4 separate regions of the Homo sapiens genome follow, and all the other regions are linked to region 2. Evidence: fine-mapped expression QTL. A gene starts in region 2. Each other region holds a variant in brackets. All regions are shown on one strand. Distances are between the middles of the regions.

What was found. PIP is the estimated chance that this variant, and not a neighbour inherited with it, causes the effect. A credible set is the group of variants that fine-mapping cannot tell apart.
Region 1: its variant is the best candidate, but not a certain one, in a credible set for the expression of SLC5A9 in whole blood (TOPMed, PIP 0.75).
Region 3: its variant is the best candidate, but not a certain one, in a credible set for the expression of SLC5A9 in sun-exposed skin (GTEx, PIP 0.62).
Region 4: its variant is the best candidate, but not a certain one, in a credible set for the expression of SLC5A9 in sun-exposed skin (GTEx, PIP 0.62).

The regions. Positions count from the first base shown.
Region 1 is chr1:48,249,710-48,257,818 of GRCh38, forward strand. No RefSeq gene overlaps it. Among named protein-coding and RNA genes, the nearest start is that of SLC5A9, 31 kb to the left of the region's middle. The variant G/T (reference allele first, on the strand shown) is at 4,216.
Region 2 is chr1:48,218,263-48,226,353 of GRCh38, forward strand. SLC5A9 (solute carrier family 5 member 9) reads left to right here and starts at 4,454. Exons shown (of 14, transcript NM_001011547.3): 1 at 4,454-4,636; 2 at 6,462-6,533. The coding sequence starts at 4,475.
Region 3 is chr1:48,193,950-48,202,058 of GRCh38, forward strand. No RefSeq gene overlaps it. Among named protein-coding and RNA genes, the nearest start is that of SLC5A9, 25 kb to the right of the region's middle. The variant T/C (reference allele first, on the strand shown) is at 3,913.
Region 4 is chr1:48,124,158-48,132,266 of GRCh38, forward strand. The region is part of intron 10 of LINC02794 (long intergenic non-protein coding RNA 2794); the gene reads left to right. It also overlaps the pseudogene SKINT1L. Among named protein-coding and RNA genes, the nearest start is that of LINC02794, 78 kb to the left of the region's middle. The variant C/A (reference allele first, on the strand shown) is at 4,453.

The sequences.
Region 1 (8,109 bases), 31 kb after region 2:
TCACCTAGATAGGTACCTGGCACATGGTGGGTACAAAATTCTGTGTTATATGAATAAGTGAAAGAATAAATGAATGAAATGAGTGAGTGAAAGGGCACCCCTAGCAGAGGAAACCAAAGATTAAAAAACACAGAGGTGGGAAAAATTATGACATAACTAGGAACAAAAATAGTTTTAAATGTCGGGAGTGGAAGATACACGTGGACAGGACCACTGCTAGTCCTTATGCTTCATTGTGAAAGTGAGCAAAAGATGCCTTTCTTCTTGGCAGATACAGATCCTCACTATAGGGTGACAGGTGGCAGCCAGAGCCCACGCTCACTTCAGCTCCCACATGCCCCTATTGTCCAGGTGTATTTGTGCAGGGCACCACCTGCACATCCATGAGTGTTAGGCCTGCATGTTGGGGAATGGGTGGTGCAGTGACTGGGAGGTAAGCAGGTGATAGCTCAGGAAGGAAGGTCCATGCTAAACTTGGGACTTCATCTCTTACCTGGATCATTTCAACAGCCCTTTGACTCTTATCTCTCTTCCCAGTCTCTCTTCTTGCAATTCATCCTATGCACTATAGCAAGAATGATTTTTCTAAAATGCAAGTATTGTTCTATTTAAGACTCTCCATAGATGGTGTTTTCCAGCTTGGCATGAGATCCTATGAAAATTGCTAGAAATATATCCCAGGGTTTTGTCCTTGTGCCCCCTTCTGTACTACAGCCAAAGACAGGCTGTTATGTGCAGTGGTTAAGAAGACTGCAGGGGCTTGAAAGACTGATCTTCTGGAACCAATTCCTCATGCTGTCATTTTCTAATGACAAGATATTGGAAAAGTTGTTTAATTTCTCTATCTATCTTTTCTCATCCACAAAATGGAGACAGTAATAGCAGCTACTTCATTGGGTTGATGAGAAGATTAAATTAGTTAATTCAAATAAAGTATTTAAAATAGTGCCTCACACATAACTAAAGTACTTAATAAATGTTAGCTATTACTGAGACAGCCAGGTGGGAAGGGCTCCCTGGCAAAACTCCAACTGGCCTATGCACTGAGAGGAGTGCACACTGGGATGGAGCCACAGACGTTCGTGCCATTTGCAGCAGGGAGGAGCCTGGCCTCTCCTCTCCTTGGGTGGAACCTGGAATTCAATCTGTGAGGTGGGAATCCTACACTAGCAGGAACTCTGGCCTTGAAGTGAGTTCCTGTTCCCCGTTTTTTCCTTTTTGCCCAATAAATCCCATTATTCTCACCCTTCAAATCATCTGCAAGCCTAATTTTTCATGGCCATGCGATAAGGACCTGGCTCTTAGCTAAACTAAGGAAAACGTCCCACAACATTATTACTGCTATTAGTAGCAGGCAAGATGAACACATAAGGAGGCATGACACTACATAGCAATGTTATTTTAGATCTAGCAGAAAATGCTGTCAGAGAAAAGAGCAGGGAGGAATTAGTTCTATCAGGGCAATCAGGAAAGGGCATAACATAAAAGTGCATAATGGAGCTAGAGTTTGAAGGAAGAATGAATTGGAGTTTTCTAGAAAAAGTCATACAAGGTAGTGAGGCAGCATGTGCTAAAGGGTTAAGGTACAAAAGTGCACAATGAATTCCCATAAAATAGGGATACTATTTATTCATTTGCAAATGTCAACCCTGCATATTTAATTTCCCCTTATAAATCCTGTCTGTATTTAGCCTCTTGCCTCTAAGGCAGAGCTGTGAAGATTACTGACCAGGGACTGAAGATAATGGGCATTGCACCACTGGGGCAGAGGCTGTCAGTCTCCTTGCCCACATCCCCTAGGTCTCAGCAGTGCTGTTTACTGTGACTTCCTGCTGAAAGCCCCTTCACCTCTCTGCTGAGGGCTTTCTCTGACTGTAGAAAAATGTTCGGTCCCCTGCATACAACAAGCTAGAAGTGCTTGGAGTTAACACACCTGGGAGCAGCCCTGAACCAGCGACAAAAAAGAGTTTGAGGATAAGCACTGTCAGCCCCTTGCCCTGAAGTGGGACAACTTGGAGCCTTGCTCTAAAATATCTTTCAGAGGGACAATGAGGCGCAGCTACCCACCGTGTTAATATGTCCATTAACACACCCTGCATAGCTCCCTTCCCTTCCCTGTCTCATTTCCCCATTTCCTTGGAGGTGTTTCCTGGGATCTCCTCTGAAATAAACCGCTGGCACCTGGTTTCATGTGCTGCTTCCGAGAAACCAAAGACAGTTTTTTAACAGGAAATCAGGCTTTGAAGTTGGGCTTTGTGGAGAGGGAAAAGGGCAAAGTCTGGAGGATTTTGACCATAAAGTCTTACCCACAGGGAGAGAAGCTCTCCTGTCTAGTATCAAGTCTTAGCCCTGCTGCTGGCCACAGGAAGTGGGTGCTGAAGGGAAGGTTTTCAGGCAGAGGGAACAGCCCATACAAAGAGATCTATTAGGTTATCTCCAGTTTTGAGGTTTTACAATCAAGATTTCTTTCATTTTGGCACTAAACACTACAAATAATGTCATGGGCCGCACCCTGTTCCAGGCACTAGGGGTACCATGGTGTTCAAGCTTTGGTGCCTTCTTAGCTCTCAGCTAGACTCAGTTCTCTGAGGAACAGGATGTTTCTCCTTTAACTCTTATGATACAGTAAAACAGCCAATGTGGTGGAAAGAAAAGAACCCTAAGCTGAAAGTCAGGAGACCTAAGCTCCATTCCCAGAGTGTGGGGGAGAGTCAGAGGCAAACAGTGAATCACTGCAGTGTAGGAAGCTCACAAGTCAGGGTCAGTCCTAGAAGGGACCTCAGTGACCAGCTAATCAGACCCCCATATTTCACAGAAAGAGACACTGGAGACTTCTAGAAGGGATGGGACTTGCTTAAGGCCATGCAAGGGTTCAGCAACAATTATCCAGGCCCTTCAAGATGAAAAGTGTTTCAGGGGTAGTGGGCAAGCCAAGAATGACATAGGAGGGGCTGGAGAAAAAGGCATGTTGAGGCCTATATTACCACCAAGCCCTGGGCAGGTCTACTGAAGGCACACACATCACACACACATTTACATTTTCGTTAATGTGTCTGTCACACTTACCATTTGAAGGGGTCTCCAAGGTCCTCTCATTCAGCCCTACTTCCCCTATCCCATGCCATTGTTCATGTCGCTCCCTTTGCCTGGAACACTTACCCTTGACCTTCTACCACCATTGCCTATCTCCTACTCACCTCAGGAATCATTTCCTACTAACTTTTCATGCTACTTCCTCCACTCACCCAAGTTGGTTTTGTGTCCTTCCTCTGAGCCTCCACAGGCCCCTGTGTTTCTACTATAGCAAGTTTCATGCAAGTGTTATAATTATTTTCATCTCTTCTTTGCCACAGACTGGTGCTCTTTGAAAGTAGGTGTGGTATTCATCTAGGGGTTGCATTGTTTTAGGACATTTAGTAAGCTCTTCATAAATGTTCAATGAATGAGTGAATGAATGCATGTTCAATTTACTCCATCATATTTTGGCTCTGGATTCCTTAGTTCTTAGCCACAATCAAGAGAAAGAATAATAGACAATATCTGTACAATCTGTACAGACTTTGGAGTTACAAAGTCCCGCCACGGGTGAGGTCTCATTAAATCCTACAACTCTTAGAGGTAGGTAGACAAGTTTCATCTCCGTTTCAGAAAGGCCAGTCAACACCCAAATGTGAGCTTCAGGACAGCCTGTAAAAATTAAAAAGCAAAGCAGCCTCTTTTGCCTCCAAGTTCCAACAACCCCCTTCACATTCAGAATGTCCTCAATGTATCTGAGGAATCTCAGATGGTAGCATTCACCATTTGTGCCTCAGTTGTTCCAGTCTCTAATGTGGACCTTCAGTCTCATTGACTGTAATGCTCCTGTGGCCCCTTTCCAAACCTCTCATCTTTGCCATGCTTTCTCATTCCAGCAGGACCTTGTTCTCAGGTTGATCTCTCCATCACTACCTGCCAATATGTACATATGAGATGTCACCCGGCTCTCTCTATATGTATATATTTCAGCAGGGTTCTTAGCCCCTCATTCAATTGCAAGATGATGTCAGGCCTTCTACCAAGTCACTTAAAAGGAAACTGCCTGTCCATTGGGTCAGTTGTCAGTCACCACAGTGAGAGCTGTAACCACCTCTCTGAAACCTTTCAGAGCCCCTACCCCAACTCACCTCCAGTCGGTGCATGGGGCAGTGGTTAAAAGTACTAGATAAGCAGGTAAAA[G/T]ATTTGTATCCTAGCTTAATTTTGTCATTACTTGCTTTATGACCCTCCCTAGCCATCCCTCAGTTGCTTCTTCCTTAAAAGAGGAGAGGCGCAAAGGCTTGAATTAGATTAGATGAAATCTATGGACGCTTCTCATGTTGACATTGTGTGCTTCTAATTTGTTTCCACAGTTTGTCTCCTTGGGGCAGGAAGTGGATGGATTGGTTGGTGGTAGTGGAGGGTATACAGGGAAAGTCATATGTCAGCTTGAGAGGCAACAGCACAAATAGAAAAACATTGCAGAGTAGCTTTCAGAGAATTGAAATGGGTTTACCATGAGCAATAATAACATTAAGAAGCAGCTTTGAACTGTGAAAGGATGGTGTTTTAAAAAAAAATAGCACTCTTAAAAATATCATGAAGAAAATGTTTTCTAAAGTGTTTTTGTTATTGAGTTTGGACTACAAAAGCACTCAATTTAACATGAGAGACTCGTAACCATGTCCTTGGGTGTGAGAGTTCACATCAGTCAGAGGGGATGGAAACTGCTAGAAGCCCAGGCAAAGCAGTGTCAGTTATCCATTAACCTAGAATGAGTGTCTGTCTAGATTTCTAGCCTTAAGTAAGATTACTGTAATTTCTTTTTTTCTCCAGGGTGAAAATTTGGGAGAAATTTAAAGGTTATATATAAATGTAAATCCTACAGGCTTAAATTAAGGTAGTTACAGTTTACTTTCATATTTCAAAATCAAATTTCAGCTTCAGCCCAGACTCACAAAGTAGAAATGTCAGACTTTTTACTGTGGTCTTATACAAAATCTACAACTTTCTCTTAAAGAGGAAAAAATAAAACCCAACCTTTATACCTTATCTCCTGAATAGACTACAAAAGCAGCATTGGTCTCTCTCTCAGTATGCCTTGTATGTAAATTTTAGGATTATAAACATTCAGAATGAGAAGGAACCTCAGAGTCAGCTAGTGCAGCTCTCCTCCCTCTTCATTCTGGGTCAGAATTTATCTGAACAGTCTCCCTGACAGGTAAACTTAGCCAGCCCTCTATTAGAACTTGCTAATTGGCAGGGTGGTCCAGAGATGGAGCAATGATGACCTCCTGAGAGCATTCATTACTGGACCACACTGCCAATTAGAAAGTTCTTCCTTTTGCTAGCTAAATTCTGCATCCCTGAAATTTCTAACCACTTAAGCAAACAAAGCAAACATCAGGTATTCCAAAATTATATTTCCACTATTTATGATTTCTTCTTAAAGGAATGATTCACAAACTGGGAACTTCCTATAGAATAGTAAATTTATCTGGGATGAGAAGTACATGAAGACTAGTAAGACTGATAATTTTTAAAATCCTCGCAATTATTTTATAAAGAGTGCTCCCACATTAACCATCTCATTTAGTTCTCAACACCAGTCTAGGACTGATGAATGAAGAAACAAACTCAGAGAGGTGAGGTAATGTGGCTGAACTGGTCTTTAAGCCCAGATTTCTGACTCCACATTCAACCCTACCCTCATTGTACTACTACTCACTCATGCAGCATTCTTCATGAATGTTACAGTTTCCAGGTTCATGACATAAATATGGAAAACAGCTGCAATCTACGCGGAGGTCAGTTGAATAAAAAAGGCAGGCAAGTCAGCAAATTATTGCAGAACAATTAAGCACTGAAATTCTAGGTGGGAACAAAATACTTCAGAAAAACAGAGAAAGGAGCAACAAATTACCTCGTGGAAATGGGGAAGGCTTCATGGGAAATAATGTTTAACTTAGATTTAGACATTTAACTCTACTTGGAGTGTAGAGATTTCTGTGTAGACAGACAAAATGATTATATGAGAGACAGAAGAAACTGCACAAAGCAAGACAAGTATGTAAAAGGCCATGGCATCTCTAAGGTAGAGTGAGGTACCTTTTGTGGCTGAAGCACAGGGTCTGTGAGAGTGTAACACAGATGACATTGGAGAAGAGGTAGAGGTGAGCCTAGGGACACTGGGTGCCACGGTATAGCCAAGAATGGGACAGAGTCAGGAAGGGTAAGGGCAACTAATATATACAAAGAGCATCTTATCTTTAGAAAGATCATTCCAGCAACAGTAAGAGAATAAATGATAGAGCCAGAGGCTGCTAAGGGATGGCAATTTTTGAGGTTGTTGCAGTATCACTGAAAAAAAGAAAGGAAAAATCCATCAGTAGATAAAGGGATAAACAAAATCTTATACATACACATAGAATACTATTCAGCCATGTAAAAAGGACAGCTAAATGATATCTCGTGGACACAAAGAGGGGAACAACACACACTGGGGCCTACTTGAGAGTGGAAAGTGGGAGGAGGGAGAGGATCAGAAAAAATAACAATTGGGTACTAAACTTAGTACCTGCATGATAAAACAATCTGTATAATAAACATTCGTGACACCAGTTTACCTGTGTAACAAAGCTGCACATGTATCCCTGAACCTCAAATAAAAGTTTTTTTAAAAAGGAATGAATTTTTGATATATACTATAACGTGAATGGACCTTGAAAACATTACATTTACTGAAATAAACCAGACAGAGAAAGGCAAATATTGAATGATTCTACTTACATGAGGTCCCCAGAATAGGCAAATTCAGAGAGAGAAAAAGCTGAATAGAGGGCAGGGGAAGAGTAGGCAAGGGGGAGAAATTGTTTAGTGGGTACAGAGTTTATGTTGAGGATGATGAAAAATTTGGGGTATAGATAGTGGTGATAGGTATACAGCATTATGAATGCTGTACATTATGTACATTATGAATGCTGTAACCAAATGTGTACATTTGGTTAAAATTATAAATGGTTAAAATTTGTATATTTTACAATGGTTAAAATTATAAATATTATGTTATGTACATTTTACCACTGTTTAAAAAAGGATTGATAAATTAATACTGTACTAAAGCAAACACATCAAAATGTTAATTGTAGAATAAAAAATTATGGAAGGAAGAGCATGGAAGATTAATTTGGCTAAAGAAAAGAATGTAAATGTTACAACTTTGACAACATAAACATGTAGTTGACAAAAGATAGAATTGAGAGGGCAAAGACAGAAGTGTTAATATCTGTCTTCTTACAAAGTAGGTAGTCAACAGATTGTTGAAAGTAGGTGGAGCAAGAAATAGAGGTTTAAGTCTGTTACTGAAAATTACATATGTAATCAATAAAATAACTAATAATAACATGAATATCAAACACTGGGAAAAGAAGGGAGGAAAGGTAGTCAACATTAAATTTTCATCTTTCATAGTAGAGATTGTTCTTGGCTTGTTGAAGTCAAGATAAAAGGTATTATATCTACATAATATCAAAAGGAGTTGTGGAGGAATCCACCAGAATACCTAGGCAGACCATTCACAGAAGGTCATCCCTGGGTACCTGCAGGTATGGGGTAAGAAAAGAGAATATCATAAGCTGTACTACACTATTTGCAACAACATACTATTTTAACTTTTAAAAGTTAGTACAATTACAAAAAGATAACCTCCTTTGAATGAGGGCCTGAATTAGGACAGTAGCCGTGAAGGAGGGGAGAGGACTGGAGGAGGGGAGAAGGCTGCTAAAAGGCATTCGTGAAGTTAAATCTGCAGGACTTACTGACTCTGGGGGGATGGAGAGAATTAAGAATAATTCCCAGGCTTTAGATCTAAAGAGTAGGTACTCTAATGTATTAAGATGTGGAAAGCAGGTTTGGTCTTGAAAGAAGAAATTATGAGTTCAGATTTGAGCACACCGACTTGGAGGTACCCATGGGATATCCCACTGGCATAGCCAGATAGTTTTTGTATCTGTGAATCTGGAGCTTGATAAACAGGTTAGGGCTGTACACCTTCCTTATAATTACTGCTTGGGAAAAACACTAACTCTTCATAGGCCT
Region 2 (8,091 bases):
CAAAAATTCTCTTTCATTCAGCATAATGTCAAGGTTCATCTCTGTTGTAGTATGTGTCAGCCCTGAATTCCTTATAAGGCTGAATGATATTCCATTAAATGTTTTGACTACATTTTGTTTATCCCTTCATTTGTTGATGGACATTTGGGTTGTTTGCATCTTTTGGCCATTAAAATTAATGCTGTTATGAACATGGGTGTACAAATATTTCTTTGAATCTCTGTTTTCAATTCTTTTGGATATATGCCCAAAAGTGAAATTGCTAGGTCATAGTAACTCTATTTTTAATCTTTTGAGGAACTACCATACTGTTTTCCATGCAGGCTGCACCATCCTATATTTCTACCCGTGATGCACAAGGTTTCCACTGTCTCCACATCCTCACCAACACTTGTTATTTTCTGTTTTATTGATAATAGTCATCCAAATGGGTACAAAGTGATATTGTATCACAATGATAAATGATTAGTGGTGTTGAACATCTTTTCATATGCATTTTGGCCACCTGTATAACTTCTTTGGAGAATTGTCTATTCAACTCCTTTGCTTATTTTTGAGTAGGATTGTTAGTTTCATTTGTGTTGATTTACTGGAATTCTTCATATATTATAGGTACTAATCCCTTATCAGATGTATGATTTGTAAATATTTTCTCCCATTCCATCGGTTGCCTTTTCACTCTGTTGATAGTGTCCTTTGATGCTCAGAAGTTTTTAATTTTGACGAAGTTCAGTTTATTTATTTTTTCCTTTATTGCCTGTGATTTTGGCATCATCACCAAGAAATTATCTCCAAGTCCAACAACATGAAGATTTTACCCTATGTTTTCTTCTAAGAGCTTTATTTTCTTAGCTCTTGCATTTAAGTCTTCAATCCATCTTGAGTTAATTTTCATATATGGTGCAATGTAAGGGTCCAACTTCTTTCTTTGGCATAGGAATATTCCATTTTCTCAGCATCATTTGTTGAAAATGCTGTCATTTTTCCACTGAGTGGTCTTCACACTCTTGTCAAGAATCATTTGACTGTAACTGTGAGACTTTATTTCTGGGCTCTCTGTTCTATTCCATTGGTTTATATGATTGTCTTTATGCCACTACCACACTGCTTTCACTACTGTAGCTTTGTAGTGAGTTTTGAAATCAGGATGCATGAAACCTCCAACTTTGTTCTTCTTATGTGTAGTATGTCTTTGTGCCTCAGTGGCAACTTCCATTTATTGGCCTGTTATATTTCTATACTTTTTTATGCATGGCTGAAACCATTCCCCTTCCCATAAAGCTTTCTCAGTCTCTCCAACAAAGGACTTCATTGATCCTTCCTCTGGGCTATCCAGCTAAAAGGAAGAAAGGGGTGGACAAAAGTGACCTATTTTGTGTCAAAAGCACCTGTCTTTTGACTGTCTGTATTCCCCACAAGGCATGAACAACTAAAGACATGTGTGCTCCCTGAACAGGGTCAGGGATAGGACAGGCCTCACTTCATGTAGGACTGACAGCATGAGGACATCCTTCACTCTCGGAAGCTCTCTGAGAGAATATTCTGGATAATTGAGGCCTCAGCTTTGAATGCCAACACCTGCCTAAAATGTTTGACCATTTTGCATGAAACTCTTCCTGCCTGGGTTTCATACTCCATGCCTTCTAAATAGAAAACTCATAATGACCACAGTCACCTTTCCTTGATGACTCTGGGTCATCCGTATGTGTGTGAATCTTGGCTGCTACTCAAGAATGCCCTTTGTTGAGAGTTGATCTACCCAGTTTTATAGGTCTGTTTGCCCCGATTTAGTCATCTTTTACATTGTCTTTCCTGGTCTTTCCAGGTTTAATGACCTCTCATGCACCATCAACCCATCAGCTGCCATTCTCCTTGCTGTCCCTGTGTAGCTTTGCCCCCTCTCTTCTAATTTGTTGTGAGTTGGGATATGAATAACAAGACTCTGGCTAAAACAAAAATAAACAGTCTCTGAGTGGGGTCACAAGGCTCACTGATAAGTCAAAGATTTAGGTTTTGGGCATGAGTTTTAGAATGTCTATTCTGGCTGTTTCAAAGCCTTTTTTGCTCCCTTCCTCATGCTCTGTTGGTCTCTGGGCTGCTAATGTGCCTGGTTAGCTTACAGATAAGTCTTAGATGCATTCGAGGAGAGGCTACTATAAACCCAAACCTGCTAGTTTTGGATTAGGTAAGTGTGCAGGGTTTGGGGGTCAGCCTCATGTATCTGTGAGGTAGATGGGAAGACAGAGCATGCAGGCAGCAGAACACTGTCCTAGTCCATCCCTACTGCTACAGCAAAACACCTAAGACCAGGTAATTTATAAAGTACAGGAATTTATTTCTCACAATTCTGGAGGCTGGAAGTCCAAGATCAAAGCCCCAGCAGGTTTGGTGTCTGGTGAGGGCCCAGTCTATGCCTCCAAGACGGCACCTTGTGGCTGTGTCCTCACATGGCAGAAGGTAAAAAGGCAAAAGGGCCTGGCTAGTTCCCTTAGCCCTTTTATAAGGTACTGATCCCACCCATGAGGGAGAAGCCCTCACGGGCTAATCACTCCTAAAGGCCCTACCTCTTAGTACTGTTGCATTGGGGATTCAGTTTCAACATGAATTTTGGAAGCAACACAAGCATCCAAACTATAGCAAACCCCAAGGGCTGGGTGAGGGGGCTCCTTGTGGGGAGCATAGAAAGAAGTACAAGACTCAGCTGTCTTCTCCCTGCGACATTCCTTTTCCCATCTCTGGAAGAGTCATCCGGATCCAGAGCCCTCACTATGGTGTGCTCAGAGGCCTAAGCTCAGACCACTCCTTCCCTGCTCCCTGATTAACACCCAGAGATCTGCCAGCCTCATTCCCCACTGTCCCTGTATCCAGCTCACCCCCAGGGACCACTGGGCACCTGGTCCATCACATTTTCCTGATGTTTCTAATGCTGCCCCTCCTGCATCCCTGTTCGTCTGATAAACTTGCCTTTAAACGTGTATATGAAGGACTCTTCCTCTGGTATCTAATCCTAACAGGTGCTAGATCCCACAGAGCCCTGTCCAGCTGGGGACTATGCTGACCTCTCTCCCAGATCAATATCCCTCTCCTCGGGGCTCAGCCTGGCCAGTGCCTGATGTTCTGGGATAGGAGAACTGGGGAGAGAAGGCCTAGGACCCTGCCTCTCACTTTTCTTTCCACCAAAAGGGGAAAAAAGAGGATCTGGTCCTCACACCCAGCCTTGGGATACTTATAAGATGCTGGGGATAGGGTGTGGGACAGGGCCAGTGAGAGCTGGGGATGGGGTGTGGGACAGGGCCAGTGAGATCTGTTTTCCTGCTGCTCCAGTCTGGGCCCTACAGCAGATGCATGCAGAGTAATATTTGTAAGACTGAAATATTCCAAATGCAGCTACTTTGGAAGGACCATGTGAGCAGATATCTAAGTGCGTGGCATCTGGGCCCCTTGGCTAGATGGTGGTCGATGTTGGTTTCTTTGTGTTAACCCCAAGAACATTCAGTAGCTCAGGGTTTGCAGAGGTTCTCAGGAGCACATCTTAGCCTCATTGGTGGTGTGAGGCAGGCAGGGCACAGGTCACACTGATGAGGACACCCGGGCCCAGAGACATTTAGCAACCTGCCCAAGGGCATCTGTAGTTCAGTGAGAGGTGGAGCTGGGACTGAAATCTAGGCTGCCTGAGTCCCAGAGATGGTCTTCCCTGGACCCAGGGAGCACTGTATCTTTTTCAGGGAAGGCCTCCTGACCACAACCATTTCATCTGTCACAGTACAGAATAGGAAGTATGGGTCAGGCATCAGAAGATGTGAATTCTGGCTCTGCCTTTTCAGAGATGGCCCTGCCTAGTTCCTTGGAATAAATGATGATGTCTTCCCCAGCCTCAGTTTCCTACACTATATAAAAAGAGAAAGCAACATCTAGGTAGGTTGGAATGGGAGTACATGAGGTGGTGGCCACTTTGCTAGGGTCACAGTAGACTCCTCACCTCCTTCCCCTTGTCTTCCTCTCACTAGGTAAAAGACAATTGTATTGAACTCTTAAGAAAATTGGACTCCAGTCCCGGCTCCACCTTTACTTCCCTGGGCCTTGGTTTTCCCACCACACAGGAGTTTGAACACTTTGATTTCTGAAGTCCTTCCCACCTCTGGGGTTCCAATATTCTGCTCCTTTTCTCCTCTTCCTCCTCCCCCTCCTTTCTCCTCCTGCTCATCTGGGGTTAGGGAGATTGCGTGTATGTGTGTGCCTGTGTGTACACATGCATGTATGTGTGTGCACGTAGTGGCAGCAAGGAAGAGGAAGGAAGGAGTCCTGCAGGGGTTGGTGGTGGCAGTTGGGAGAAAAGGAGGCAGGACTGTATGTGCCAGCAGGGCTCAGAGTTTTCTCACCAACTAATGGTGCTTGGGGCAGTTTAATCATTAAAGGAAAGGAATGAAGCCAGGAGCGCCTCAAAGTCCAGCCTGCTGTTGACCAACACTAACAGATGAGCAAGGAGCTGGCAGCAATGGGGCCTGGAGCTTCAGGGGACGGGGTCAGGACTGAGACAGCTCCACACATAGCACTGGACTCCAGAGTTGGTCTGCACGCCTACGACATCAGCGTGGTGGTCATCTACTTTGTCTTCGTCATTGCTGTGGGGATCTGGGTAAGTGGGCCCTGAGGCTGGGGCTAGCAGGGGAGGTAGTAGTGGTCTCTCAGCTTGGGTGGGGCTGTGGAGCTGGGGCAGGGCTAGGCAGAAAGAAGCAGATCATAGAACCATGTGGCTGAGAAGGAAGGGCCTTCAGGAATCAGGCTCCTGATCTCCTCATTTTTAGAAGGGCAGAGAGGGGTGTGGCTGGTCTGAGGTCACACAGAGAGTCAGAGGCAGACCAGGCCCCCGACTCCTGACTCCTCTCTGAGCACCTGCTGCCTTTGGCCCCAACCATCCCTGGTTGCCCTGAGCCTCACTCCTTCCTTCTTCCCACCCCAAGGCCCCCAACTCTGAGAACTCTTGACCCCTGGCCCTACCTCAGTCCTGCATTCGTTAGCATCTTGGCTAAGGTGATTTCTAAATGAGAAGGGGCTCATGTGCTCTCAGGGAAGTGTGCCAGGCTTATTCCAAGGTTCCTCTGTTCTCCATTGTTCCCAGGAGCCTCAGTGCTAGAGGCAGGGGCCAGGCTTTGGGGTCAGGGAAACCTGAGTTCAGGTCCCAGCTGCAACAATGAGAGCCTCATGTCCCTGGGAACATATGAGGCCTATCAGCTTTCTCAGGTGAACAATGAGAATAAGGACTATGCTGTGATCATTCAGCAACAGGACATACTGCAGCACCTGGCACGGTGCCTGGTGCCCGATCAGCAGGCAATAAATGGCTGCTATTATCACCACGCATTCCACAGAAGTGTGAGCACCTTTAGACTCTGCTGTGATTCAAGTCCCAGATGGTCACTTCCTAGGCTGTGGCCAGGTCAGAGACCCTCTCTGAGCCTCAGTTTCCTCATCTATAAAGGGGGGTGAACAGTCCCTGCCTTCTAGTGCTGGTGTGAGGAAGAATTGGGCTAACAGATGGTCACTGGCTCCTGGAAGTGGCCAGCCGAGAAAAGCACCAACTCCTCTGTGACTTTGGACAAATTGCTTCCAATGTTGGGCCTCCATTTTCACATCTGTAAAATGGATCTGTTTTGCTCGTATGGCCTCCAAGAGGATCAGAGCTGACAAGGAAAATACAAGCAAAAGCTTAACAAGCACAAGGCCCCACACATATTTATCACTCCCTCGTGACTGATTATTTTCCCTTAGGGGAAAGTCAGAGAACTGTTGGCTTTTGCATCTGAATAGCTGCTTCAAGTTCATCCTTCCCTACCCACTGCCCTGCCCTCACCCTGTATCTCCAGAGAATATTCCAACAGGCTGCTAACTGACCACCTACTGGTGTAAGACAGGGAGGTCCTGGATGGGGCTCAGTGGCGTGATCTGATTTCAACCCAGGGCAAGGGAAACTCCAAAACAGTACCCATAACTCTACTCAGGGCTCAAAGTCTCACAGTCAAACTGCAGCCCTCTCTGTCCTCCCGCCTCCAGTGTGGGAGCTCAGCTGGGAGCAGGGAGGGGATCAGCTCAGAGAAAGGGTGAGCACTACACATCTAAGGAGGTGATAACAAATCATACTCTGAAAGCGCACTTTGGGGAGGGAAGGATAAGGGGACAAGAGTGCACAATCAATGGCTTCACACACGTGACATCCGTTACCTCCTTTGCTCTTCGCACTGGCCCTGGGAGATGAATGGCGAGGCTCACAGAGAAAGTGACTCTGCCAAGATACATCGCTTAGAAACTGTGGAACCAGCCTCAGGCAGCTCTCTTCTGCCTCAGTTTTCACCCTCTGTGTCCCCACAGTGCCTGCACCGAGGGGAAGGAAATCTGCGGGGAGGGGGCAGGGCAGAGGTTCAGAGAGTCTTGAGAAATCCTCATCTCATCTATTTCCTTTCCAGTCGTCCATCCGTGCAAGTCGAGGGACCATTGGCGGCTATTTCCTGGCCGGGAGGTCCATGAGCTGGTGGCCAGTGAGTTGACCCTTCTCAACCACCCCTAGTGCAGAGGCTCCCAACTTTCTTCCTCCCCACTATCCAAGCACTTGTCCCATCTTCTCACACCTGGACCAAGGCAAAGACCTCCCCGTTGTGTTTCCTGACTCTGGGCCCCTTCTCTCCCGCCCAAACCCGCCCCGCAACCTGAGTGGTCCTGCTAGCACGCACCTTGGACAAACATCCCCTGGCCCCTCCTAGGTGTGGCCCTACATCTGGCACTTGACTTGCAGTGATGAATCTGGAATGTCCCTGTCCTAGAGAAGCTCAGAGCTGAGTGGGGCAGATAGATTCATAAACATCATGCGCACTGCTGAGCCAGAGGGAAGCAGGGGGCACTCACCAGAGCTTGGAAGCCCCTGACCACCAGACAGTGGAGTCAGCTAGGGTTAGGAAAGATTTTGGGGGGAAGGTGACACATAAGCTTAATATTGAAGAACAGTTAAGTTAAGGGAATCACAGAGGTAAAATCCCCAGCAATCTCAGGGAATCGATCCCCAAAACTTTGTGAGCCACAGTTTCTCCCATCAAGCCACACCACATTTCTAAGTTAGGGGAATCACAGAGGTAAAATCCCCAAAAACCTCAGGGAATCGATCCCCAAACCTTCGTGAGCCACAATTTCTCCCATCAAGCCACCTCACATTTCTATTGGTCCTCAAAATTAACTTCCTCCTCCTGGAATGGGATGGAGGGAGGAAAGCCCTGCCTCAAAAATTACCAGTAGAGTCATCAGCCCCAGTGGTAGCTGAAGCAGTATACACACCCAGGCATGCAAAACTCACACACGGCATGTGTGCATACCCACTCCCACATGCACACTCTCACACACTGACACACAACACTCACACTCACATACAAAGGCACCCACACATGTTCATACATGCCCGCACTCATACATGCTTGCAAACTCATGCACACAATCATACTCCTATTCTCACACTCACACCTTCTCTCACGCACTCACACTCTCACTCTCATACACACTGTCACAATCACATACACTCACATGCAGTCTCACACTCATGCTCCTTTACATACTTACACGTGCACACTCAGACTCACACATTCATGCGCACTCACACCACCAGCCATCTTCACGCCTCTCCCCACCCTTCTCCTTCTCACCACCTTCCCCACTCTCTAGTGGTCACAGACTCATTAAAGAGTAGCAGAAACACAGGAGGCCTCCAGGGCTCTCTGGAAGGTTTAGGTATCTGGGACAGGAAGAAGTAGGAGCAGGGAGCTCTTGTCTGTCCAGCATGACAGAATCCCCAGGGATGGCGGGGAGCTGGGCCTTGCAGCTCAGGAACAGTGGCGGGGTCACTGGTGCTACAGCCACCTTCTCATCAGGAAAAAGGAAAAACCCTTCAAAATGGTTCTTTTCAGCTAGTGCCCCCCAAATCACAGCCCTGGAAATGAAGGAAAGGAGGAGAAAGAAGCAGGACAGAGCAGGTTCCTCTGACCACTTCAGGAGAAGCCCAGGGGCCCTGCTGATTGTCTGGTCAACCCACAGAGAGCCGAGCTCTGGCCCAAC
Region 3 (8,109 bases), 24 kb before region 2:
GCAGCACTGTTCACAACAGCAAAGACGTGGAATCAACCTAAATGCCCATCAATGACAGATTGGATGAAGAAAATGTGGTACGTATATACCATGGAATGCTATGCAGTCATAAAAAAGAACAAGATCATGTGCTTTGTGGGAACATGAGCTGTTGTGGGAGCTGGGGCTATTATCCTTAGCAAACTAACACAGAAACAGAAAAAATAATATCGAATGTGCTCACTTATAAGTGGAAGTTAAATGATGAAAACTCATGAACACAAAGAAGGGAACAACAGACACTGGGGTCTGTTCGAGGGTGAAGGGTGGGGAGGAGGAAGAGGAGCAGAAAAGATAACTATATGTGTACTAGGTTTAATACCTGGGTGATGAAATAATCTGTACAACAAACCCCTGTTACACGAGTTTACCTACATAACAAACCGGCACCTAAAATAGAAGTTAAAAAAAAAAAAACTTGAAGTCAAAGAAAAAAAAACTGCCTTTGTAGATGATATGATTCTTTCTACAGAAAATCCCAAGGAATCTCAAAACGAACAAACAAAACCCTCGTGAAATTGATAAGTAGTTATAGAAAGGTTTAGGATACCAAAGTCAATTGCTTTCAGTTGTATCTTTGCAATTTCCTGTGAATGTATAATTATTTCAAAACAAAAAAAAAAGTCTTAAATGGAAAAATGACCTACTCTCATAAACCACAAATATATGTAATCTTGCTTGGGCTTGATAAATAAATGGTGATAACTTACAAAATGACAAGAAGAATTACTGTTCTCTTTTGGATTTATTGATGGGAGGTAAGCCGAGGAATCCACCAAAAACCTCTGGAAATGAAATAATTTATTTTAATATTAACTTATACTGAATCATGCACACAACTGTAGCCTCACCTTTCAAATAATATTAGTATTAACATTTTGGTATATTTCCATCCAGTATTGTGTGTGTGCTAAAAATTGAAGAATTCCAAAACTTTACCGTTCATGAGAATTACCTGCAGGGTTTTTTTAAAGACAAACCACTGGCAACACTCCAGAGTGTCTGACTCAGTAGCTCTAGGTGGAGTGCAAGAACTTGCTAACAAGTTCCCACGTAGTGCTGATAATATTGATACAGGGAACACATTTTTGGAATGCTTGACAAACACTATAATTCTATTCTCTTTTTTTACACTCCAGAATACATTATGAACCTGTTTTATTGTTGGTCTTCAAAAACATAATTTTAATAGATTTACAGGTTTCCAGTGTATTTCTGTCCCATCATTTATTTTTAAATTTGTATATTTTGTTGGAGCTCCAAAGGGGCAAAAATTATAGCTCCCCTTTTCTTTCAGTCTAAGTTTTGAATTAATTGAGAAAATAAAACTATATAGTAAAGCAGGAGATCAAAATATTACTTTTATTAAAGAACAAAACTCTGATATTGGGAAGTGTGTGCAGTATCTATGAGCAAGTCAGCTTCTGAATACTAAATCCAGGAATTAAGCAAACCTTCCCATTCCAGCACTGGAATTCTTGCACCACCAGGGATTCTCCCTGATGGCATATGCCCAAAGGCAGTTGGGGGCACACGGTCTGTGTGGGTTGCTTGACTCCCAAGAGAAGAATCCGTGGCTATCCCCATCAATAATAGGAAAACAGCAACCTTTCAGTACAGCTCTATTCCGCTTTCACGAGGCTATTCCACAGCACCATGGTTTAACACGGTTTAAAGTCACATGAGATACGACAGGTGAAAGAGCTAAGGACAAGCCACGCCAAAATATGCCGCTTTGACATATTAATTATTTCCAGCTGATGACACTTGAGAAACAGCAGATGCAGGAAGAGTCATCTAACGGCTCCTTTTCTACTGAAAACAAGCCACAGAATTTTCCATGAGAAAGATTCCCTCCCTGTGCCAGGAAGAGAAGAATACCCTTATCACCAGAGACTGGGAATCAATGCCGAAATGGATCTGTACAAACAAACATACTAAAATAACCCTTATCTTCCACTAGTTTTATTCCCTGCCCCACCACCACCATATATCTCCTAGTGACTTCTCCACAACTTACAGCTCCTAGTTCAAACCCTTTTGTCTTGTCATTTCTTCACAAATGTATTGTTGGGGCTCAGAAACAGATACCCCAAATTCAATGCGTTGACAGGCTGAACAGAAGAAGCCTCAAGGTTTCTCTGACCTTCTCCCTCTGCTGTCTCTCCCAAGGAAGGTGAAGTTCCTTTATCCATACAGTCTATTGTTTTTTTTTTTTGTTTTTTTTTTTCCTTTTTCTGGAGAACGGGGTCTCGCTATATTGCCCAGGCAGGTCTCGAACTCCTGGGCTCAAGCTATCCTCCCGCCTCTTAGCCTCCCTGAGAGCTGGGATTACAGGCGTGAGCCACCGCGCCCGGCCCCATACAGTCTAAAGATAGAGGAATTTCCTTTATCCATACCTACTTCCCCTTCCTGTAAGACCACAAATGTGACCACACCAGAACAGGCCCTTTCACTGTCAAAGAGAACTATTTACAAGTTACTCTCAGTTCCAGAATCCATTCATTCTCCTTCATAATCCTTTATTGCCCCTCAATGGAATTCCTCTTCTCACCACTCCCATAACCTGTTGTCAGGATGTTACATAAGCTTCTTAACCCCATTGCAAGTGAGTAGTCACCCTGTAATTCCCTCCATGTGCACTTTCTGTGCATGTTGCATGAAGGCAGTTCACTTCTTAAATTTGTGTGCATTTTATCCTATTAAGCTGTCTCATGTCGGTGATTTTTCAGTGAGCTTTCCCTACAGTATCATTTCTTTATTTAAATGATATAAAAGCTTTCTGTTCCAGTCACTCCTTCAGGTCTTTGTCCTCTTATAAAGATCCCCATATATGCAGTGGCTCATGCCTGTAATCCCAGCACTTTGGGAGGCAGGCAGATCACCTGAGGTCAGGAGTTTGAGACAAGGCTGGCCAACATGGCAAAATCCCATCTCTACTAAAAATACAAAAAAAAAAAAAAAAAAATTAGCTGGGCGTAGTGGTGGGCACCTGCAATCCCAGCTACTTAGGAGACTGAGGCAGGAGAATTGCTTGAACCCAGGAGGTGGAGGTTGCTATGAGCCAAGATCACACCACTGCATCCAGCCTGGGTTTGGGAGCAAGAGTCTATCTAAAAAAAAAAAGAAAAAAAAAGGAATAAAGTTTGCATGCTGTTCTTCTGTTAATCTGTTTTATGTCGGTTTCATTTTTGGGCCTAGCTAGAAACTCTAAGAGGATAGAAAATTTTTTCCTCTCCCACATATGCATAGGTTTGAATAGAATACTGCTCCTCAAGCTGATGAAACCCCAGCTCCTTTAGGGCTCTATGGGTGGATGTGTTCTTTATCATCCAATTATTAAGATTAAATTCCTGCAACTCAGATTGGGCCGGGCAGAACAAACGTGGCGATTGGCAAAGCACGTGGTTCCTAAGACAGCCTGGGAAAATTTCTTTCTCCCCCAGTCACATGCCCCAGAAACCTTCCCTACCTACTCATTGGCCTTTTATCAACATCAAAGCCTTCCCATCAGGAAGTAAAGATGTTACCCCAACCCACACAGAAGTTAAGGAAAGAGCAATGAAAAATGGATACTACATGCTTTTTGTTAACCTAAAAGGAAAAAAAAAAAGACTGAGGCAAAATTAATATAAGTAGAGAGTTTACTGGGGCCACATTTGAGGACTGAAACCCAGGACCATAGATTCAAGTTGCCCTGAATATACACTCTGATTGGCAACAGTTACAAGTTATTTTTTTGTTTTGTTTTCTTTTGTTTTTTGAGATGGAGTCTCTCTCTGTCACCCAGGCCGGAGTGCAATAGCACAATCTTGGCTCTATGCAACCTCCATCTCCCAGATTCAAGTAATTCTCCTGCCTCAGCCTCCCTAG[T/C]AGCTGGGTTTACAGGCACCCGCCACCACTCCCGGGTAAATTTTGTATTTTTGTTTTTAGTAGAGATGGGGTTACACCATGTTGGCCAGGCTGGTCTTAAACTCCTGACCTCAAGTGATCCACCCACCTCAGCCTCCCAAAGTGCTGGGATTATAGGCATGAGCCACTGCACCCAGACTCAAGTTGGTTGTTTTCTTTTGTTTTGTTTTTTCAGACCAGGTCTCACTCTGTCACCCAGGCTGGAGTGCAGTGGCGCAGTCATGGCTCACTGCAGACTTGACCTCCCAGGCTCAAGTAATCCTCCCAACTCAACCTCCCAAGTAGCTGGGACAACAGGTAAGCACCACGACATCTGGCTAATTTTTAAATTTTTGGTAGAGACAGAGTCTCACCATGTTGCCCTGATTGGTCTCAAACACCTGGGCGCAAGCAATCCACCTGCCTCGACCTCCCAAATTACTGGGATTATAGGTGTGAGCCACTGCGCCTGGCCACAGGTCAAGTTTTAAAGGAAAAAAGGAGGAAGTTTCTATGTTGTTTATCAAGATGTTCTTAAAATAACATAAGCTATTGATTGGCTATACATTGTTCTTTGTATCACGAATTTCAGAAACATGAAGATAATGAGTGAGGCAACTAGTCAGGAACAAAATATCTTTAAAAAATTGCCCCCAGATATAGGTGCAGGGTGGAGGTGGGGGTGACTGATGTCCTAAACTCTTGTTTCTCTGGGCCTGATAAGTCTTCTATACCTCACATGACTCAGACTGCTCTGAGTTATTTTTTCTTCTCATTTCCTAAAAGCAAAATCTGATGGATAGCACAAAGGTCTTGCAATCTAGAAAGAAAATTCAGCCATTCTTTCAATAATTATGTAACCACCCCACAGATTCTCCTTACCTACTTCCCAGATACAGCCAGTTTATCAAGACAGGGGAATTCCAATAGAGACAGAGTTTAATTCACGCAGAGCCAACTGAACAGGAGACTGAAGTTTTATTACTCAAATCCATGTTCTCAAAAATTCAGAGGCTTGGGCTTTTCAAGGACAGGGGAGGCAGGGGAACAGGTTCTGCTGATTATTTGAGGATGCAATCCTAGGGGTGTGGAACACGGTTGCAGTACACTGAGTCTGCTTCTGGGTGAGGGCCACAGGACCAGTTAAGTCCAGAGTCGTGGGTCCAGGTGGGGCCATCCAGTCATCATAAATGCAAAAGCCTGAAAAGACAACTCAAAAGGCCAGTCTTAGGTTCTGCAATAGTGATGTTATCTGCAGGAGTAATTGAGGAAGCTGATTTCCAGAATAATGACTAGTCATCATTTATACCTACATCTTAGCCGAATTCAGCCTCCTCTCATCCTCCTAACCTGATGGTCTTAGTTTTACAAAGGTGGTTTAGTTTGGGGAAGGGCTATTATTATTTAAACTATATACTAAATTTCTCCCAAAGTTAGCTTGGCCCAAGCCCAGGAATGACCAAGGTTAAGGGTAAGATGGGGGTTGATTAGATAAGATCTCTTTCTCTGTCATAATTTTCCCACTGTTATAGTTTTTGCAAAGGTTGTTTCAATTAGGGATTTTCTATGTGTCTGGCACTGTGCTGGGGATAATACAACGAGCAAACAAAGGCCAATCCCTGTTCTCTGGAGCTTGTGGGAAGAACACGGATCTTTGAGAGCTCAGAGTAAGGGAGTGGGCCCAGGAGAACTCACTGGCCAAAAGCAAGAGCATGTGCAGAGGTCCTGCAGTGGGAAGAAGTACAGGACATTGCCAGGAAATCTAAGACAATAGCAGGTGAAACATAGCAAAATAGAGGGAGATTTGAGGCAAAATGAGGCTGCAAGGCAGACTGGGCAGGGTCTAGTAGACTATGTTCAGGAATTTTAGCTTTATTCTGAGAGTTCTGGAAAATCACTGAAAGGTTTTAAGCAGAGTGTAAGATTTGGGAAGGACATACACAAATACTCATTTGAAACTATCTCTTTGGCTTGAGTGTGAGAAAAGATTGGAGAAGGGAGGAAAGGCCAGGTCAGTGACTCTGCCATCACCTAAGTAGTCAGTTAACAAACGCTCCATCTAGCCTGCCCCACACGTGCCTGCAACAGGCAGAGCAAAGTAAGGCAAACTCAATCCCACTCTCAAGCAGCTCAATCTTTTCTTCTGCCCACATTTGCCCCCATCCAGTGCTACTTTAGAGACATTCCCTTTTCTCCTTTCTTCTTATTTCCTCAGGGCTAAAGCCTGATAAATAGAGTCTGGCTTTCTAAGCAGAGATCTGCATTTAGGGAAAAGAAATAACACACAGCAACCCCACCCCTCAGTTTTACATTTTTTAACTTAAACAATTCTCTTTTTCCAGCAGAAAAGCCAGGATGTCACTGTTTATTCACAGCCAGGTCTCCACTCTGCACACTAAAAGTCACCGTAGTGTTTGCAGTCCTCACTCAAGCAGTGAGTGTAAAAGGAATTCCATCTGTCTCTAAAGATCTTTTGACAGGAATGAAAGACCTGTGAGGCAGTGGTTTATTCACCACAGCATCTTGATAGCTCAAGCTAAAAAAAAAAAAAAATGGCTAGCAGGCTGACATTACCAAAGCAGACACTACTTCTCTTTTAAAATTGGTTTTCCTGAGGCTAAATGCTAAACTTTATAGTTTTTGTAATTAAATATTATCCTGATAGAGTCAAATCAATTATAGCAGATAATAACTGCTTTGCTTTTGATTCTCTGGATAATGAATTAGTTGTCCTTACCAAATCTGATAGCCCTTTGGCAAATTCTTTATTCAAATCACTCAACACGTTTGTCAAGAAAGAACGTGGTTAAGTCCCTGGAAGCCTGCCTCCAGATTGCCATGGTAGCATCAGCTACTGCAGAGTCATCAAACATACATTTCTCCATATTTCCCTCAAGAGATTTTTGGAAAATGTCCTTTTGAAACACCAACATGAAAAGCTTTGACTGCTGGGCCCATTACATAATTGATGCCTAAGAACTACTTAATTGTTTGGTCAATAGATTCTCTTAGATCTGTTAATCAATTAATCTTAAAAACACAGGTAAAGCAGTAAGGCATGTCTCACATGACTTAGTCTCAACGAGACCCACTGGCTTCCATCACTCCCTGTTTCTTCCTCCAAGTAGTCGCAGTGGATCCTTTAATAACCTGTGAGTCTCCCTTGACATTCAAGCATACATGGGTGTATGTTTACACTCCATTTATTTACCCATCTCAAAGGGAGCCCCATTCCCTTCTGCCCCTCCTGCCCCTCCTTTCTTGGCTCTGCAGCTCTCCAGTTCCTATGGGGGCACCATAATCTTTCTCCCAGACTAGTGGTTTCAGTGATACTCTTCTGCAGACCAGGCTCTCTCTATTTTCCTACAAATACAGATTCCCTCTAGTCAGGCACCAGTCGCCTCTTCTTGGACCCAGCCAAGCCCATTACAAAGGAGAGACATGTCCCTCCTCAAATTTTGGTTAAATACCATGATAATGTGTTGAACATGCTCCCAGCATTTCTTACTCATTGACTGATACTGTCCCTCTGCTTGGACCCTATCTTCTCTTCTTTTTTAACAAAACCCCATTTATTCTTCCTGCCTAGCTCAAACCCAACCGTCTTTAGAAAGCCTTCAATAGTATTCTCACTCGATGAGATGTATTCTTCTTTAAAGCCTTACATCAGCATTGTAGGAAGGTTTTAGAGTCCGAGGCTCACCTAGATGGGCATCTAAATTCTCTGCCACAAATAACAAACCATTTGGCCACTCTGAGCCTTGGTTTCTTCAGCTACAAAATTGCATAGGAATTCTTTGAGGATTAAATCACATTTTAAAGTGTTTTACACCTGGCTAGCACTCAAAACTAAAAGCAACTATCGGTATTATTTATTTTGATCTCTTGCTGTAATTAGGCTCACTTTTATTATAGTGTTTATAAATTCATTTTTGCTTCCTCCTGCACTTCCTCCCCTTCTCCACTGTGAGAAACTTGGGAGACAACCTAACTAATCTTTAGAAGCCCAACCTCAAAAAGGGGCTAGGATGGAGAGCATTTATTACTAGAAAAACTGACATTATCTAGAATTCTCTGTTGTACAATTCAGAAACCATGTGTGTGGTTATTTATATTTAAAATTAAAAATAAATTAACTTTAAAATTGTGTTCCTTGGCCACACTGGCTACATTTCAAGT
Region 4 (8,109 bases), 94 kb before region 2:
ACTCAATACATAGGAGTCAGCAATTATTGTGTTTCTATTCAGTATAGGTTCTTATATAATCATACGAGGCTTTAGTGACCAAAGGAAAAGCAATCCAACACCCCAGTTTCAAGATTGTTTGACCCTCATTCCAAAACCCTTCATCTGAACTCCTTTGGCCACTCATTACCATGGCAATGTCCTATAACACAGTAGTTTAAGAAGAGCACATGCTCCTTAAAGCTCTTCACCCACTCACCACAAACACATTTTATACATTTCAGTTAGAAAAATGGCTTACTGAAGAAAAACATTGCTTGCCTATTTTTAGTTTTGTTTCAACTGCTTTTGAAGAATTTGTCATGAAATCTTTGCCAAATGGTACTTCATAAGTTTTCTTCTAGGGTTTTTACAGTTTTAGGTCTTATATTTAAGTCTTTAATCCACCTTGAGTTGATTTTCACATATGGTGAAAGGGAAGTGTCAATTTTCAATCTTCTGCATATGACTATCTGGTTATCCCAGCACCATTTAATGAATAGGGAATCCTTTTCCCATTGCTTTTGTCAACACTGTCGAAGATCAGACTATTTTGACAAAGTCTCCAAAAGCAAGTGCAACAAAAACAAAAATATACAAGTGAGACCTAATTCAACTAAATAACTTCTGCACAGCAAAAGAAACTATCAACAGAGTAAACAGAGAAACTACAGAATGGGAGAAAATGTTTGCAAGCCATGTATTCAATAAAGGTCTAATATCCAGAATCTATAAGAAACTTAATAAGCAGAAACTAAACAACCCCACTAAAAAATGGGCAAAGGAGATGGACAGATACTTATTAAAAGAAGATATACACACAGCCAGCAAACATATGAAAAAATGCTCAACATCACTAATCATTAGAGAAATGAAAATCAAAACCACAATGAGATACCATCTCCCACCAGTCAGAATGGTGATTATTAAAAAGTAAAAAAGTGGGCTGGGCGTGGTGGCTCATGCCTGTAATCCCAACACTGGGAGGCCGAGCTGGGAGGGTCACTTGAGGTCAGGAGTTTGAGACCAGCCTGGTCAACATAATGAAACCCCTCTCTACTAAAAATACAAAAAATAACTGGGCATGGTGTTGGGCACCTGTAGTCCCAGCTACTCAGGAGACTGAGGCAGGAGAATCACTAGAACATGGGAGGCGGAGGTTGCAGTGAGCCAAGATCACACCACTGTACTCCAGCCTGGGTGACAGAGCAAGACTCCATCTCAAACACAAAAACCCAAAACAAGTAAATGGATAGCAGGTGCTGGAAGCCAGTTTCTCTCAGAAAGAGGGAAGTTACAGACATACAAGTACAGAAGGCTAAAGTAAACTACATCATGTTGGAGTAGTGTTAGAAAAAAAAGTAAAAAAAAACAGATGCTGATGAGGTTGCAAAGAAAAGGGAATGATTATACACTACTGATGGGAATGTAAATTAATTCAGCCACTGTGGCAAGCAGTTTGGAGATTTGTCAAAGAACTTCAAATGGAGCTACCATTCAACCCAGGAATCCTATTACTGGATATATACCCAAAGGAATATAAATCATTCTATAATAAAGACATGTGTGCACACATTTATCTCAGCACTATTCACAATAGCAAAGACATGGAATCAACCTAGGTGCCCATCAGTGGTAGACCAGATAAAGGTAATGTGGTACATATACACCATGGAATACTACAGAACCATAAAAAAGAATGAAATCATGTCCTTTGCAACAACATAGATGCAGCTGGAGGCCAGTGTTCTAAGCAAATTAATGTAGGAACAGAAAACCAAATATGACATGTTCTCACTTATAAGGGGGAGCTAAACATTGGACACTCATGGACATAAGGATGGCAACAAAAGACACTGGGAACTACTGAAGTGGAGAGGGAGGGAGGAAGGCAAGGTTGAAAAATTGTTGAATACTTTGCTCACTACCTGGGTAACAAGATAATTCATATTCTGAACCTTAGCATTACACAATATATCCACATGACATACTTCTTTTCAACATATTAATAAAGGTCCCAGCCAGAGCTATTAGATAAGAAAAAGAAATGAAAGACACCTAAATTGGAAAGAATGAAGTAAAATTATCTGTTTGTAGGTGACATAATCATATATGTAAAAACTCTAATGACTAGTAAAAAAATTTTAGAATTAATAAATTTAGTAAAGTTGCAGGATTCAGATTTTACATACAAAACACACTTGCGCTTCTATACACTGACAAAAATTGACACATAAAAAATTATGAAATAAAAGCCCATTTGAAATAACATCAAAAGGAATAAAATACTTAGGAATAAATGTGACTTGGAGGTAAAATATTTATACCTTAAAAAGTATAAAGCATTGATGTGAAAAAATTAAAGAAGATCTGAGTAGCCAAAGCAATATTTAGCAAGATAAAAGCTGACATCACACTCCCTGATTTCAAAATATAAAGATACAATAATTAAAACAGTATGGTACCACCATAAAAACAGAACATATAGACCAGTGGAACAGAATAGAGACCCCAGAAGTAAATTTACACATTTACTATCAACTGATGTTTGATAATGATGCCAATAAAAACAATGTGAAATGGAGAGACTCTTCAAAAAATGATGTTGGAAAAACTATTCCTGCATGTAGCATAAGTAAATTGGACCTTTATCTCTCATCATGTACAAAGATGAACTAAAAATGGATTAAAGGCTTAAATGTAAGAACCGAAACCATAATACCGCTAGAAGATACTATAGGAAAAAGCCTTTTGACATTGGTCTGGGCAATGATTTTTTAGAATGACATCAAACACAAAAGCAACGAAAGCAAAGATAAGTAAGGCTACATCAAATTAAGAAGCTTCTGCGCAGCAAAGGAAATAATCAAATGAAAAGTCAATGTATGGAATGGAAGAAAATATTTGCAAGTCACATTTCTAATAAGGGATTCGTATTCAAAATATATAAGGAACTCATTCAACTCAAGAGCAGAATGCCAAAACACTCAATTAAAAAACGAGTAAAGAGCCTGAATTTATATTTTTCAAAAGAAGACATGCAATTGGCTAAGAGGCGTATGAAAAAGTTCTCAATACCACTAATCATCAGGGAAATGCAAATCAAAGCCACAACAACATATCATCTTACACATGTTCTAATGGCTATCATAAAAAAGAAATAACAAATGTTGGAGAGGATGTAAAGAAAATGCTTGTATACTGTTGGTGGGAATGTACCTTGGTACAGCCATTATGGAACAGTATGGAGGTTCCTCAAGAAATTAACAATACAGTTGCCTTATGATCCAGCAATTGCACTTCTGACTACATATCTATCCAAAGGCAATAATACTGGTATGTTGAAGAGATATTTGCACCCCCATGTTCACTGCAGCAGTATTCACAGTGGCCAAGATATGGAAAAAAATCTAAATGTCCATCAATGAATGAATGGAAAAAGCAAATATGGTGTATATATATAATGAAGTATTATTCAGCCTTAAAAAAGAAAAAAATCCTGCCATTTGTGGCAACATGGATGAAACTGGAGGACATTATGCTAAGTGAAATAAGCCAGTCAGAGAAAGACAAATACTGCATAATCACATTTATATGTGTAATTTCAAATATTCGAGCTTGATATATCAAACTGAATTTTGTAAGGTGATCTTTGAGAGGGGATTTCCTTCACTTAGGAGTTTGACTGATACTTTGGTGTTCATGCTGCTGTTTATGGCTGCAGTGACTTACCTTGTCTTGTCTTGATGCTGCTGATGTGACTCACCCACTGTGAGTGAGCTGGTTGCTACTTAAGCTCTATCTTGCTGTCTCAGAGGCAGAGGGTAGAATGGTGTTTGGCAGGGGCTGGAAAGAGGAGCAAATGGGTTGATGTTTGTCAAAGGGCACACATTTTCAGTGATGCAAGATAAGTAAGATTTCGAACAATGTAACTATAGTTAGCAATGCTGTATTGTATACTTGAAATTTGCTGAGAGGGTAGTTCTTATGTGTTTTTATTCACCCAAAAGAAAAAGATAACTATGTGAGGGGATTGATTGAGGTGATTTACATGTTAGTTAGCTTGATTGTGATGATTATTCCATAGTATATATGTATACCAGAATGTCAAGTTGTACACCTTAAATATACACAGGTTTTATTTGTCAATTATACCTCAATAAAACTGTAGAAAGTACCAAATTGAATTTCGTAAGGTTATCTTTGAGAGGAGATTTCCTTCACTTAGGAGTTTCACTGATACTTTGATTTTCATGCTACTGGTTTATTGCTGCAGTGACTTGCCTTGGCTTGACTTTACGCTGATGTGAATCACTCACTGTGAGAGCTGGTTGTTACTTCAGTTCTGTCCTGTTCTTTTCTCACCTCACAGCAGCACTGGTTACCAAGGTGGTGTTTCTGAGAAATTGGAGGGAGCAAGGAAATGTTAAAAAT[C/A]TGGATTGATTAAGTCATATTTGGGCGATTAGTCTAATACTTCTCTTCCAACTGGGCAGTGGCAGTCCCAGGTTCTATTCCGTAATTTAAAAAAATCTTATTTTCCTATTTTATTGACTCCTCTTTTGTGTCAAGAAGGGAAGTTTGCTGCTGGCCAGTTTTAGGAAAGTTCATTAAGATAAACATCTTGAGTCTCATAATTAGTTTAGAGGCAGATAGATCCTGGGAAAGGCAGATAAAGAAAATAAGTTTGCCTTCTCTTTTGTCAGCTTGGTTGTAGCTACTAACAGAAATGGAACTTAGGGAAAGTATGTCCACATTCAGAATAAGAGCAAAGGATACTAATTTCTCTTTAAGACAATGAGACAATGATTCGTCCTGATTTTTCCTTATGATCAGCATCATTTAAACTGATCTTCCTCAGATTTATAGTGCTGTCTTCTTCAGAGGCTTAGTGTCAATGGACTGCAGTATGATGATGTGGAGGCAGTTTATGACAGAAAAGACACATTTGTACTCTACTAGGGGGCATCTGTCTATATTATAAGGAGCATGTTTCTTAGAATAGCAAAATTTCTGGTCAGCTCTGATTGCCAGTGTTTCAGCTACACATTTTTATTTTTACTTGATCCCCCAAGAGAAGGTTATGTGGAGGATGCTTGTAATTCCTCCTCAACAAGAGGGAGAATAGGCATAGCTGCTACAGTCCTCTTTTCAGTAACTAGTTATAAAGCTATAAATAACAGTTACACTTAATACTCCCTGCTCCAGATTCCCTTTTCCCTCAGCCATTCCTCTCTATGTTGGGATTATTTTTTTATCTGGTAAAAAGACTCAAATCTGAATTCCTAAAGCATCTGAGTCTTTAGCGACCCTGCCTTCATTGCATCCCTGTGGTCTTTAATTAATATCTGCTACTGAACTTGAAGTAATTACATGTTTCTCAGAGAACTCCTTGGATTTTAGGCATAATTCTCTCTACCTTGATGGTGTTTATTTCCACTTGATAGCTGGAATCAATCCCTTTTTATTGACCAGTTGATTCAGTGGCACTGGGAGCCTAACTTGGCCAGGTGGCAGTCTCAACTTCCATGTCACCAGGACAGATGTTGCCTACTTATGTGAAGTCACTCCTTTCTTGGGAAGCCTTTTAGACTGACAGACCTCAGACTCGTGGGAGTGAGAAACAAGAGTATATAATAAATAGATTGTTGAATATGATAGTAAAAGAAACCACTCCCACTTTTATCTCTCTAGTCTTGAAATTATGCATTTTGGTCATGAAACTAAAAATCACCACATATAAGTCATCGATCCAAATAAAGGACTGCATTTTATGGGGTTTTTGCAGCCTTGCAGATGGTGCTTTTCAACTAGCAACATGTTTTTAGTAGGATATTCCAATGATCCAGATGAACAGCTGCTTCTATATAAAGAAATATATATATATATATAGTAATATTGGTCAATTCCCTAAGTAAGAGCTCTTCACTGTACTTTTTTTTGTGGCAAAATTAGTTCCTTGATCAGAAACCATTTTGCACAGAATAGCATAATGACAATACAAATGTTGTCATATGTCTGTGCTTGACGATGCTGGCAGAAGCGCTGCAGCCAAGGAAGGCATAGTCACATATAGGATAATTGTCTAATCCAGTGGAAAAAAATGCTCTTCTCTCTCTGGTGGAAGAGGTCCAATATAATCAATCAGTGGAGAATGCGTGCCAATCTGGGACTTAATATATAATCACTATCATTGACATTTGGGTAATGAGTTGTTTCAGCAGGCAGAGAAGCTGTGGGAAGAGAAAATCCATTTTGTTGACCTCATGCATAACCTCTAGCCCATCACCATGGCTGTTTTGTACATGAGTCCATTAAACAAGCACCAGAGTTGCTCAAAGAGTGACTGACATTCACAGGATGGGGCACCTTGTGATTCGACCATAGAAAGCTTCCTCTCCAATAGGCAACTTTGTATAATGATGTAAATAATTCATGACTATATCATACTTTGTGCTCATTCTGAAAGTTATATTAACACGTTTCCCAGACTTCATTTACTAACCTTTCAACTTGATTTATGCAAAGATTCTGACCAGCTGACAAACCCATCAGCTCATGTTAATGGGCTAGTGTATATGTTTATGGTCAATTAGTGTCTTATTATCAGGCATCTCTTTTTATTTGTATAAATTTATTCAGTACAAGTACAATTTTGTTACATGCATAGATTTCATAGTGGTGAAGTCAGGAGTTTTAAGGTATCACCCTAATAAAGTACATCATAATCATTAAGTGATTTATCATCATCCACTCCCTCCAACCCCCTCACCCTTCTGAGTCTCCATTGTGTATCATTCCATACCTGATGTCCATTGGTATACATTATTTATTAATAGCTCCCACTTATAAGTGAGAATATGTGGTATTTGTCTTTCTGTGTCTGACTCGTTTCACTAAAGCCTTCAGTGTCATCCATGTTGCTACAGAAAATGTGATTTCATTATTTTTTTATGGCTGAATGGTGTTCCATTTTGTATATATGCCACATTTTATTTCTCCAGTCATCTGTTGATAGACACTTAGGTTTAGTCCATACCTTGGTTATTGTGAATAGAACAGCAATAAACATATGAGTGCAGGTATCTTCTTGATATATAGATTTCTTTTCCTTTGGGTAGATACCCAATAGCGGGATTGCTGGATCAAATAGTAGTTCTGTCTTCAGTTCTTTGAGAATTCTCCATAGTGTTTTCCAAAGAGGTTGTAGTAATTTACATTCCCGCCAACAGTATATGAGCTCCCTTATTCCTGCATTCTTGCCAACATCTGTTATTATTTTTTTATTTTTATTTTTTTGAGACAGAGTCTCGCTTTGTCTCCCAGGCTGGAGTGCAGTGGGGCGATCTTGTCTCACTGTAACTTCTGCCTCCCGGGTCAAGCAATTTTTCTGCCTCAGCCTCCCGAGCAGCTGGGACTACAGGCATGCACTACCATGCTTGGCTAATTTTTGTATTTTTTGGTAGAGATGGGGTTTTGCCATGTTGGGCAGGCTGGTCTGAAACTCCTGACATCAGGTGATCCACCTGCCTCAGCCTCCCAAAGTGCGTAGTAATAGCTATTCTGACTGGGCCAAGATGATATAACATTGTGATTTTAATTTGCATTTCCCTGATGATTATTGATGCTGAGTATTATTTCTTATACTTGTGTGTCTTCTTTTGAAAAATATCTATTCATATCCTTTGGCCACTTATTAATGATATCATTCATTGTTTTAGTTGTTGTTCAGTTGTTTGAGTTCCTTATATATTCTGGATATTAGGCCCTTGTCACATGGATAGTTTGCAAATATTTTGACCCATCCTGCAGATTGTGTCTTTATTCTGTTGATTATTTCTTTTGCTGGGCAGAAGAGTTTTAGTTTAATAAAGTCCCATTTGTCTGTTTTTGTTTTTGTTGTATTTGCTTTTGAGGACTTGCTCAAAAATTCTTTGCTTAGGCCAATGTCTAGTAGAGTTTTTTCTAGGTATTATTCTAGGATTTTTATTGTTTCACCTTTTATGGTTAGGTCTTTAATCTATTTTGAGTTAATTTGTGTTACTGTTGAGAGATAGGGGTCCAGTTTCATTCTTCTGCATATGGCTATCTAAT